Homo sapiens: one gene and its partners. The protein of the gene in region 3 interacts with the protein of the main gene of each other region in a biochemical or structural test. Each region holds a gene or a part of one and is shown on either strand. Other genes may lie near its edges. The genes, in order: ESR1, DAPK1 and SARNP.

The links.
Region 1: the proteins of SARNP (region 3) and ESR1 form a complex in vitro, tested with the Homo sapiens proteins (one large-scale study listed by BioGRID).
Region 2: the proteins of SARNP (region 3) and DAPK1 form a complex in vitro, tested with the Homo sapiens proteins (one large-scale study listed by BioGRID and IntAct).

Annotation. Positions count from the first base shown.
Region 1 is NC_000006.12:151,838,613-151,842,266, forward strand, and holds part of ESR1 (estrogen receptor), read left to right. Parts: intron 1-3,654.
Region 2 is NC_000009.12:87,700,312-87,703,965, forward strand, and holds part of DAPK1 (death-associated protein kinase 1), read left to right. Parts: intron 1-2,717; coding exon 2,718-2,906; intron 2,907-3,654. UniProt on the Homo sapiens protein: Calcium/calmodulin-dependent serine/threonine kinase involved in multiple cellular signaling pathways that trigger cell survival, apoptosis, and autophagy.
Region 3 is NC_000012.12:55,807,582-55,811,235, reverse strand, and holds part of SARNP (SAP domain-containing ribonucleoprotein), read left to right. Parts: intron 1-3,654. UniProt on the Homo sapiens protein: Binds both single-stranded and double-stranded DNA with higher affinity for the single-stranded form. Specifically binds to scaffold/matrix attachment region DNA. Also binds single-stranded RNA. Enhances RNA unwinding activity of DDX39A.

The DNA of each region.
Region 1 (3,654 bases), on a different chromosome or scaffold from region 3:
AGAGGAAGACCGCTCTTGCCTTTTAGTTTATATTCTTTGTTTTTTTTTAAATAACATTTTGACAGTCTTTATGGAGTAAGTCTGGGCCAAAATGATAATTGACAATGTTATTTACATGGATTTCTAAGTTGGCTAAAAAAGTTCCTTTATGGTTAGTGAATATAGCCCATGTAGTTTCCCCGTCTTCTTTAGATGCCTTCTATTTCTATGCCCAAAGTCTGCAGTTGATTTTCAGTAAGCTGGGGGTCATCTTAGAGATAAAATGTAGATGAATGGCATTTTGCTGACAGCATACATCTTTGCTATTTCTGAGGAAAATGGGCTCTCGCTATTAAATCTTTTGTCAATATTTATAAAAATAGTATTTACATATTCTATCTATATTGTGGAAACTATACATTTATTGATTCAGTCATTTGATATCAATGTTGTTGAGTCCCTATTCCAAGTGAGGCACTATGCTCTAAGCACATGGCATTTTAAAGATGAATAAGACACCAAGAACTTTGCAGATAGTAATGGAAATGAGAATTAATCAATTGAAGATTAATATAGTAAGTAGCAGAAGAGAAATAAAAAAATCTTCTAGAGAGTTCAGAACAGGGATGTTGATTCAAGTTTATGGGGATTAGGAGTGGCTGGTAAGGGAGGCATTCAGGCAAAAGACATAAAAATGCAGTATTCCCCTCGCACTCATTAGGATGGCTACTATATTAGAAAAAGAAGAGAGTAAGTGTTGGAGAGGATATAGAGCAAATAGAAACCTTGTGCCTTGTTCATGAGAATGTAAAATGGTGCAGCCACTGTGGAAAACACTGGTGATTCCTCAAAAAATCAAAATAGAATTATCATATGATCCAGTAATTCTACTTCTGGGTATATATCTAAAAGAATTAAAAATCTGGGTCTTGAAGAAATATTTGTATACTCATAGTTATAGCAACATTATTCATAATAGCCAAAAAGTAGAAGCAATCCAGATGTCTATAGATGGATGAATGGGTAAACAAAGTCTGTGTAGTATATACAGACAATGGCATATTAGTCACATCATGGACCTTCAGGACATTATCCTAAGTGAAATATGCTAGACACAAAAAGCAAAAGTAGGGTTTCACTTAATGAGGTATCTAGAATTGCCACATTCACAGAGAACAAAAGTAGATTGGTGGCTGCTAGGGGATAGGGGAAGGAGAAAATGGGGAATTATTGTTGAATGGGTATGGAGTTTCAGTTTTGTGAAATGAAAATGTTCTGAAGACTGGTTGCACGATGATGTGAGTATATCTAACATGATTGAATTGATGAACACTTAAGCGTGGTTACGATGGTAAATTTTGTGTTATATATATCTTACCACAATTTAAAAAATATAGCATTTTATTATGTAGGCGTGGGTGGGAAGATACTTGACACATTGGAACTTCTGGCCATGCGTATACTGTTCACTCACTTATTCCTTCATTCATTCAACAAACATGTATTGAATGCTTGCTATGTGCTGGGCACTGAGCTAGATATAACAATTAATAAGGCTTATAAGACATTGAATCTATCAATTTCATGCTTGCTAAATATCTACTCCCACCTCCAAAGGCACTAAGCTTCTACAGTTAGATATTCATAGCTGCTTCCTACTGACTTGAATCATGCATAGGATATTAGTAAACAAGCAATAAAAAGATTTGAGGTTGATGGGGGTGGGTTCAACAGCATGGTGGTGAAATGGAAAGAGATGGGTAACAGAATATGAACTAGAATTGAAAACTGTGAGCCAGTGCTCTCTAATGAACATTAAAAAATAAAGAATTCCTATTTGAGGCTGCCAACCTCAGAACTAAGTTATTTAGAATGGACGAAATTGGCAAAGTCAGACGTACTCAACCCAAGGAGCCAATATTTTGTGAATATTATGGCAAATGTAGTTTGAGAACCACTACCACAAAATTGTGAACCATAATAATGACTGAGAAGGCAGGGAGAGGTTATACAATTTGGGCTAAAAGGAAAGACAGGGCTTGTGAAGGGGAGCGCCAGTGAAAGTCAGTGTGGTTCGGGTATTTGGGTGGGGACTGGAAGCAGGAAGCTTGAGCTTCCTTTGCCAAGAGACCCTGCTGGAAGGGCTATCATCAATTGACTTTAGCTCATCTTAGGATTTTCATTTTTTAAAAAATGTTCACAGGAACCTTCACTCCATCTATACTTTCAATGTCTGCCTACCTTTCTTTCTTATACAACTTTGAACACTCTCTCCATTCATTTAAATATATTATGGAGTGCCAACTACATGCCAGGTACTGTGCTGGGCTCTTATTCCACCTTTATTTGATTGCACATGCCTGCCAAGTCCTGGGCCAATATAACATCTACTCCTATGTCTGGTCTGGCGAGAGATGCAAACTCATCTTCCTCTACTTTCCTTACCTCCTTCCTTCCAGTCTTCTTCAAGTTGTCTTCATTGAGGCAATTTCTTTTACCTGTGTTTTTAATCCCAACTCCTCTAGTTTCCTTCTTGGCTTTATTCTTTTATCTTCCTCTTTGTGCTTTCAAACATTCCCTTTCTCCTGGCCCATGCCCTTCAGTCTACACGAGGCCTTCTCAAGTCTCTTCATTCTAAAAAATTCATTTTCTTGGGTCTTATATTCTTCAGCTGCCACCCTATCTGTATCTTTTCCTATTCTCCTCCAAGTTCTCAAAGGAATGCCTTCCCTCATTTTCATCTCCTTACATTCCATCTGCTGAATTTTGGCTTGTGCCTGTACCTGTCTAAGGAAACTCCTTGCTAAGAGTCTGCTTTGTCAGGTCTGAATTCACTTAACCAGTCTTTGCTTTGTTGGACTTCTCTGCCCCATTTGCCATTCTTGATCATCCTCTCCATAAACCTTTCTACTTAAAGCATTTTACTTCCTTATTTTCTTGGTTTTCCTAGAATCTCCTTACTGTTCATTTTCAGCTTCCTTTCTGTGTTCCTCTTCTCTTCCTACATTTTTTTTTAGCTTTCTACTTTCTTAAAGCATTTTACTTCCTTATTTTCTTGGTTTTCCTAGAATTTTCTTACTGTTCATTTTCAGTTTCCTTTCTGTGTTCCTCTGATTGTCTCTCTTTCTACATTTTTTTTTTCTGTGTTCCTCTGATTTTCACGCAGTCTGGAGTTGTCATGATCAATCATAGCCTACTGCAGCCTCGACATCCTAGGCTCAAGTGATTCTCCCACCTCAGCCTTACAAGTAGCTAGGACTACAGTCACACATCACCATTCTCAGCTAATTTTTTTAAGAAGCATTTTTATAGAGATGGAGTCTTGCTATATTGTGCAGGCTGGGCTCAAACTACAGGGCTTAAACAATTCTCCTGCTTTGGCCTCCCAAAGTGCTGGGATTCCAGGCATGAACCACCATGCTCAGTCTCTACATGTTCCTAAAGAGGAGTTTTGAATATTGAAGAACAGTATTTTCAAATTACATTATTCAAGTTATAAAAACTGATATCCAGGGTTATGTGGCAATGACGTAAAAATTTGAATTGTTATTTTTTTGACACATGTTCTGTGTTGTCCATCAGTTCATCTGAGTTCCAAATGTCCCAGCTGTTTTATGCTTTGTCTCTGTTTCCCAGAGACCCTGAGTGTGGTCTAGAGTTGGGATGAGCATTGGT
Region 2 (3,654 bases), on a different chromosome or scaffold from region 3:
TTCATAGTAGGACCCAGTAAGAGGTGTCTGCCTGGACATGTCTTTATCCTAGTGCCCTGGGAAAAGAAAGGAAGAATAGAGAAACAAGGAGATGATGGGAGCTGAAGGGTTATTATGGGCAAGGTGGACCACTTCAATTTTATGAAATTCTTACCGATTTATTGGTTTCTTTAACAATATTTTATTTATTTATTTTATTTTTTCAGAGACAGGATCTCACACTGTCATCCAGGCTGGAGTACAGTGGTGTGATCATAGCTCACCGTAACCTTGAACTCCAGGGCTCAAGCAATCTGTCCATCTCAGCCTCCCAAGTAGCTAGGACTATAGGCACGCACCACCATGTCTGGCTAATTTTTTTGATTTTTTGGTAGAGACAGGGTCTTACTATGTTGCCCAGGCTGGTCTCGAACTCCTAGGCTCAGGTGCTCCTCCCACCTCAGCCTCCCAAAGTGCTGAGATTACAGGTGTGAGCCACCATGCCTGGCCAATTTTGGGAAAAAACCAAAAAATTCAAAAGTGACTTATTGTGGAATATTTAGAAAATTCAGAAAAGTAGAAAAACAGTCACAAACTTTTTTGAAAGACAGAAAAGAATAAATGAACAAAGGGAATGAGACTGTATTCTTGGGTTGCAAGATATGACTATTTTATTTTTCCCTAGTTATATAAATGTAATACAATTTCAGTTAGCATCTGAATGGGTTGAGGGGATTGGGATTTTTATCTTAAAATTTCCATGGAAAAATTCATTAAACCTATTATAAAGCCCCTGATAATCAATACAGTTAAATAGGAGGAAAAGCTTAGAGGGTATAGAAGTAAATCATAATATCTTTAGAAATATAATGGAAAATAAATATGTCATTTGAATTTAATGGGGTAAAGATTATTTAATAAATGAACCTGGCACAACTGGCTATTTGTCTGGAAGGAAATAAAGTTGGATTCCTACACCCTACAAAGTCCAAAAATAAATGGATTAAAGCTTTTAAGTAAAAACATGAAACAATAAATACCTTGAATAGAAATTGTGGAGAGTGTATTTTCAAAATAACTAGGGACTGAGGGAACCTGTTAAACCAAGATCTAAAACCCTAGAAATTTTAAAAGAAAATATACCTGTTTGAAAATGTAAAAATTTTTAAAATTTTTTTCTAGCAAACAAATTAAGTAAACAAAGTTGAAAGGTGAAATAGGCTGGGAAAAAGCATTCTCAATGCTTTGGACAGATAAATGGTCACACCGTAATGTTCAAAAAGCTCTCCGGAATTGGTAAGAAAAGGGCGAGCGTCCCAGTGGAGAAGTGGTGGCATTCACTCTGGAGTCTTCCTGCTGCCGAGGCCTGAGGACAAATGCGGGCAGATGCCTGTCTCCCTCTCTTACCTTTGAAGCTGCCTCTGGGTGTATTTTTTTTTTTTTTTTTTAACTGCTTTGCTAATAAGAAAATGCTGTGCTTCCCGCACCAGATTCTGGTTCTAGATGTGCTTCCAGAATTCTCGGGAAACCCTTTCCTGTCTCCAGAAAACCCTGCCCTTCACACCAGATATCCTCGTTGGGGTCCCACTGTGGCATCATCAGAAGATAGGGGGTAGTCCGGTGAGGCCTGGGAGGAATCTGTCACAGAAACCAGGGGCGGTGATCTGGGAACTAACAGTGGTCTCTGAGGGCCCCTGTGCTTCCCCACCAGGTCTGGATTGAGGCTGCATTCCTGAGGCAGGAGGGAGTGTCCCTGGAGATTTTTGAGCTGGGCTCTGGCATGATCTGCTGCTTCTCAGACACCCCCCGCCCAACCCCTAAACTCCTGAGCTCAGGCAGGTGGAGCCCACCACATCAACTGCACTCACCCCTGAGAATTTTGTTTTTGAATGCAGAGTGGAATTTAGCTGACACAAAAGAATTTGAGAGGGGAGTGCGGAATTAATGGCACGGTGTAGCCTGTGGCTTATGTGGTTTCTAATTCAGAGGTATGTGGATTACGTGAGTCTGTAACATATGCTGATCTAATTAACCAAGTTAAAAGGTTAAAAATCCACTTCAGCCTACATACCAAGAATGGGTCTAATTGGAAACAATATTTCAACAACAGTCCCCACGAATGCCTAATTTACTGGTAAACACTCACTCTAATATTGATGATGATACTCATTCTCTTTTCCTCTGTTCATAAAGTGATCATTGCCTGAGTGAAACAGTCACGAGAGAGAGAGCGAGGGAAGAAAGGAGGGAGGGAGGAAAAAGTGAGGGAGTGAAACATTAGGAGTTGGTGAACATTAGTTGATTGAGTGACTGAGTCCACAATTCCAAAAACGTTCCTAGAAGACTCAAAATCTATTTAACATGAACTAAAGAGCCTTTATAAAACTTTATATTTGAGCAATAGATGAGGCTTAAAAGCAAGTCTAAAAGACAACTGCCCCAGTACTCAACCCAAAAAACACAAACTAGCCAGACACAGTGGTGTGTACTTGTAGTCGGAGCTACTCAGGAGACTGAGACAAGAGGATTACTTGAGCCCAAGGGTTTGAGACCAGCCTGGGCAATAGCGAGACCCAGTCTAAAAAAAGAAAAAAAAACGTCAACAACAACAAAAAAACCCACTCGTTCATCAAATCACCTGCAAGGCGCCTGAATGAAAGGTGTCCTTTCCACTGTGGCTCTGCTCAGGGCACCCACAGCTGCAGGTGAGTTAACCTGTCTGGCCCTGCCCCCTCTAGGTCTGTCCTCCCATGACTCACCTGTGTGAGAAAATCATCTCCACGCTGCCTTCCTGGAGGAAGCTCAATGGACCCAACCAGCTGATGTCGCTGCAGCAGTTTGTGTACGACGTGCAGGACCAGCTGAACCCCCTGGCCAGCGAGGAGGACCTCAGGCGCATTGCTCAGCAGCTCCACAGCACAGGCGAGGTGAGCCCCTGGGAGCCCAGGCAGGGGGCCGTGAGAGGTGCCAGGGACTCAGCCTGTCCCAAATTCCAGCTCTTGGAAGTGGTGTGAGCCTGGGGAAGCAGTGTGGAAATGGTCCAGCTAACCTACAACATTTCCACACGTGTGACAAACACAGCCTCAAGTGACGCTCTGAACTGCAGTTCTCGGCTCACCTTAGGAGCTGTCATTTTGTCTTGTCGTGTTTTGCTTTTATTTCCAGAGTCTGTTAGTTTGGGAGTGCAGTGCCCACTGCCCTGGGTGACTGGGTCTCTCTTCACTCCCCCTGGGCACCAGGAACTTAATCTGCTACTCCTGGCAGCCTTCAGGATGGCTTCTTTGTATCAGCGTGGAGTCATCAGCTCCACACAGATCTCCTGGGTGGGAAAACAGTTGAGAAAAGGCAGTGAGGTGTCCTTGTGGAGGCAATGTCTGGAGATACAAAGACAGAGAACTCTGGTGCACAGATACACAGAGTAATCATAATTAAAGATGCACATTAAAAAACTCTAGCAAGCAATGCCCAGCAGAAATGATTGAGAATGGGAGGCTTTGCTCTGGTTCTGTGACATTGAGCACCAGGGCGCGGTTTGGAAACCCTGTTCTAATGGCATCATATGCCTGTCCCAGGAACGGGGGCAGTGCCTTCGTGTTTCTCCACCATGTGAAATTGGGAGCCTACATGAACTAGTGTGGGCCAAGAAGAGCGGTTCTGAATATTGCAACTAAAAGC
Region 3 (3,654 bases):
AGCCTAATTGTAATACCAACCACTTAGGTTCCTTGTAAGGATTTTGAGTTCCCATCATATATGTTATAGGTGGTCTAAAACATCTCTGCCTTCAAAGAATTTACAAACTATATGTTGACATAACATGAAAAAGATGATTTCTTTTTTTTTTTTTGGGATGGAGTCTCGCTCTGTCACCCAGGCTGGAGTGCAGTGGCGTGGTCTTGGCTTGGCTCACTGCAACCTCTGCCTCCCGGGCTCAAGCCCTTCTCCTGCCTCAGCCTCCCGAGTAGCTGGGATTACAGGTGCCTGCCACCACGTCTGGCTAATTTTTGTATTTTTAGTAGAGACAGAGTTTCACCATGTTGGCCAGGCTGGTCTTGAACTCCTGACCTCAGGTGATCCGCCCGCCTCGGACTCCCAAAGTGTTGGGATTACAGGCGTGAGCCACCGCGCCTGGCCAACGTGAAAAAGATTTCTGATAAAATATTTTAATCAAAATTTGGCCGGGTGTGGTAGCTCATGCCTGTAATCCCAGCCCTTTGAGAGGCCGAGGCGGGAAGATCACCTGAGGTCAGGAGTTCAAGACCAGCCTGACCAACATGGTGAAATCCCATCTCTTCTAAAAAATACAAAATTAGCTGGGCATGGTGGTGCACGCCTGTAATTCCAGCTACTGGAGAGGCTGAAGCAGGAGAATCGCTTGAACTGGAGAGACGGAGGTTGCAGTGAGCCGAGATTGTGCCACTGTACTCCAGCCTGAGTGACAAGAGTGAAACTGAGTCTCAAAAAAAAAAAAAAAAAATTCAAGGTCAGTTAACTAGAAGAAATCACAGGGCAAGCTGGGCACAGTGGCTCACGCCTATAATCCTAACCAACACTTTGGGAGGCTGAGGCAGGAGGATCACTTGAGCCCAGGAGTTTAAGAACAGCCTGGGCAACATAGTGAGACCTCATCTCTACTGGAAATAAAAAAATTAGCTGGCTGTGGTGGCACACACCTGTGGTCCCAGCTATACAGGAGGCTGAGGCAGGAGGATCATTTGAACCCAGGAGGTCGAGGCTGCAGTGAGCTGCGATTGCACTGCTGCATTCCAGTCTGGGCAACAGAGCAAAACCCTGAGTCAAAATAAAAATAAATAGAAATCACAGGGCAATGCATGATTAATGTCAAATGTATGATGAGGGTAAGTTGATATGTCTTTTCTCTGTGGGTTGGATAGGTAGAATGGAGAATGCTTTATTGATACTGAAAAATAAGATTTAAAAAACTTTTTGAATAGGTAATCATGCACAAGTTCACAAAAGAGTATATGGTAAAAAGTTTCTTTCCTACACTTTTCCCAAACTAGCTTCCTCTTCTCAGATTCAACCAGTGTTAACTTACCTGTTTCTTCTCCAGGCATCTTGTTTATACACATTATACAGAGATGTGTGTGTATTATTTTTTACATTAATGTTAGTATCCTTATAGAATGTTCTATAACTCTTTTCTTTTTTTTTTTTGTTTTTTGAGACAGGGTCTCCCTTCTGTCGCCCAGGCTGGAGTGCAGTGGTGTGATCATGGCTTACTGCAGCCTCAACCTCCTGGACTCAAGTGATGCCCCTGCCTTAGCCTCCCGAGTAGCTAGGACTACAAGTGTGCCTGGCTAGTTTTTTGTTTTTTGAGAGACAGGGTCTCACTGTGTTGCCCAGGCTGGTCTTGAACTCCTAGGCTCAAGTGATCCTCCTGCGTCGACCTCCCAAAGTACTAGGATGACAGATGTGAATCACTGTGCCTACCTAGCTGGTTTTTTTTGTTTATTTTCTTCTTGGGACAGGGTCTTACTGTGTTGCCCAGGCTGGAGTGCAGTGGCATGATCATGGCTCATTGCAGCCTCAGCCTCCCAGACCCAAGTGATCTTTCCATCTCAGCCACCTGAGTAGCTGGGACTGTAGGCACATGCGACTATGCTCGGCTAATTTTTTTTTTTCAATAGCCTTACTGAGATACAATTCACGTACCATACAATTCATTCAGTATACTTGTTAAAATATTTTTTGTTTGTTTTGAGATAGGGTCTCCCTTTGTTACCCAGGCTGGAGTGCAGTGGCATGATCTCGGCTCACTGCAGCCTCGACTTCCTGGACTCAGGCCATCCTCCAGCTTTAGCCCCTCAAGTAGCTGGGACTACAGGCACATGCCACCATGCCTGGCTGTTTTTGTATTTTTAGTAGAGATGGGATTTCAACATATTGTCCAGGCTGGTCTCGAACTCCTGGACTCAAGTGATCTGCCCACCTCTAGCCTCCCAAAGTGTTGGAGCCAAAACATTTCAAATCAAATCAAATCAATTTAGAAAAATGGGATAAGATTTTATGTTAGTTCCTATTTTAAGTTTTAAAAGGTTTTAGTTCTGCTAATGTAATTGTGCTGAAATACGTGCAAAAAGAAATTACATCATTTTCAGCTGTTTTATGTTTTTATTCATCTGTTTCTCATTCATTCATTCTTTTGAGGCCAGGTATTGCTGTGTTGCCCAGGCTGGAGTACAGTGGTGTGATCACAGTTCATAGCAGCCTTGACCTCCCAGGTTCAAGCGTTCCTCCCACCTCAGCTTCCCTAGTAGCTGGGACCACAGGCGTGTGCTACCTTGTGTGACTAATTAAAAAAAAAATTTGGCTGGGCGTGGTGGCTCATGTCTGTAATCCCAGCACTTTGGGAGGCCGAGGCGGGTGGATCACCTGAGGTCGAGAGTTCGAGACTAGCCTGACCAACATGGGAAAACACTAAATTAGCCAGGCATGGTGGCGCGTGTGTGTAATCCCAGCTACTCGGGAGGCTGAGGCAGAATTGCTTGAACTCGGGAGGTGGAGGTTGCGGTGAGCCAAGATCACGCCATTGCACTCCAGCCTGGGCAGCAAGAGTGAAACTCCATCTCAAAAAAAAAAAAATTGTAGGAACAGGGTCTCACTCTGTTGCCCAGGCTGTTCTTGAACTCCGGGGCTCAAAGCTGTCCTCCTGCCTCAGCCTTCCAACTTGCAGGGACTACAGGCATGAGCCACCATGCCCAGCCTCTATTTTCCTTTTAAAATAATGTCTATTTTCCTTTTAAAATAACGTCCTAGTATATGAGAAGAACTCACTATATAACAAAAGAAGTAATACAACTATGTAAAAGCTGTGTGTAGGCTGGGCACAGTGGCTCACGCCTCACTACAAATGATATATGTAAATGTTAAGTGATCTGTAAGTGCTGGGATTACATACGACTTTTATTTTCCTCTAAACTTTTCAGAATTTTCTAACTATTCTACAGTGAACATAATACTTTTATAACAAACAAAAAATTTAAAGTGTAATTAAGATCAAAAGACTTGTTCTCCAGGAAGTGGGAAGAAAATAATGTATCAGTGTGAGAAAGATCAAGATTCTTAAAAAAAATTTTTTTTTTTTTTTTTTTGAGACAAAGTCTCGCTCTGTCACCCCGGTGGAAGTACAGTGGCACGATCTCGGCTCACTGCAAGCTCCGCCTCCCGGGTTCACGCCGTTCTCCTGCCTCAGCCTCCTGAGGAGCTGGGACTACAGGCGCCCGCCACCGCGCCCGGCTAATTTTTTTTTTTTTTTTTTGTATTTTTAGTAGAGACGGGGTTTCACCGTGCTAGCCAGGATGGTCTCTATCTCCTGACCTCATG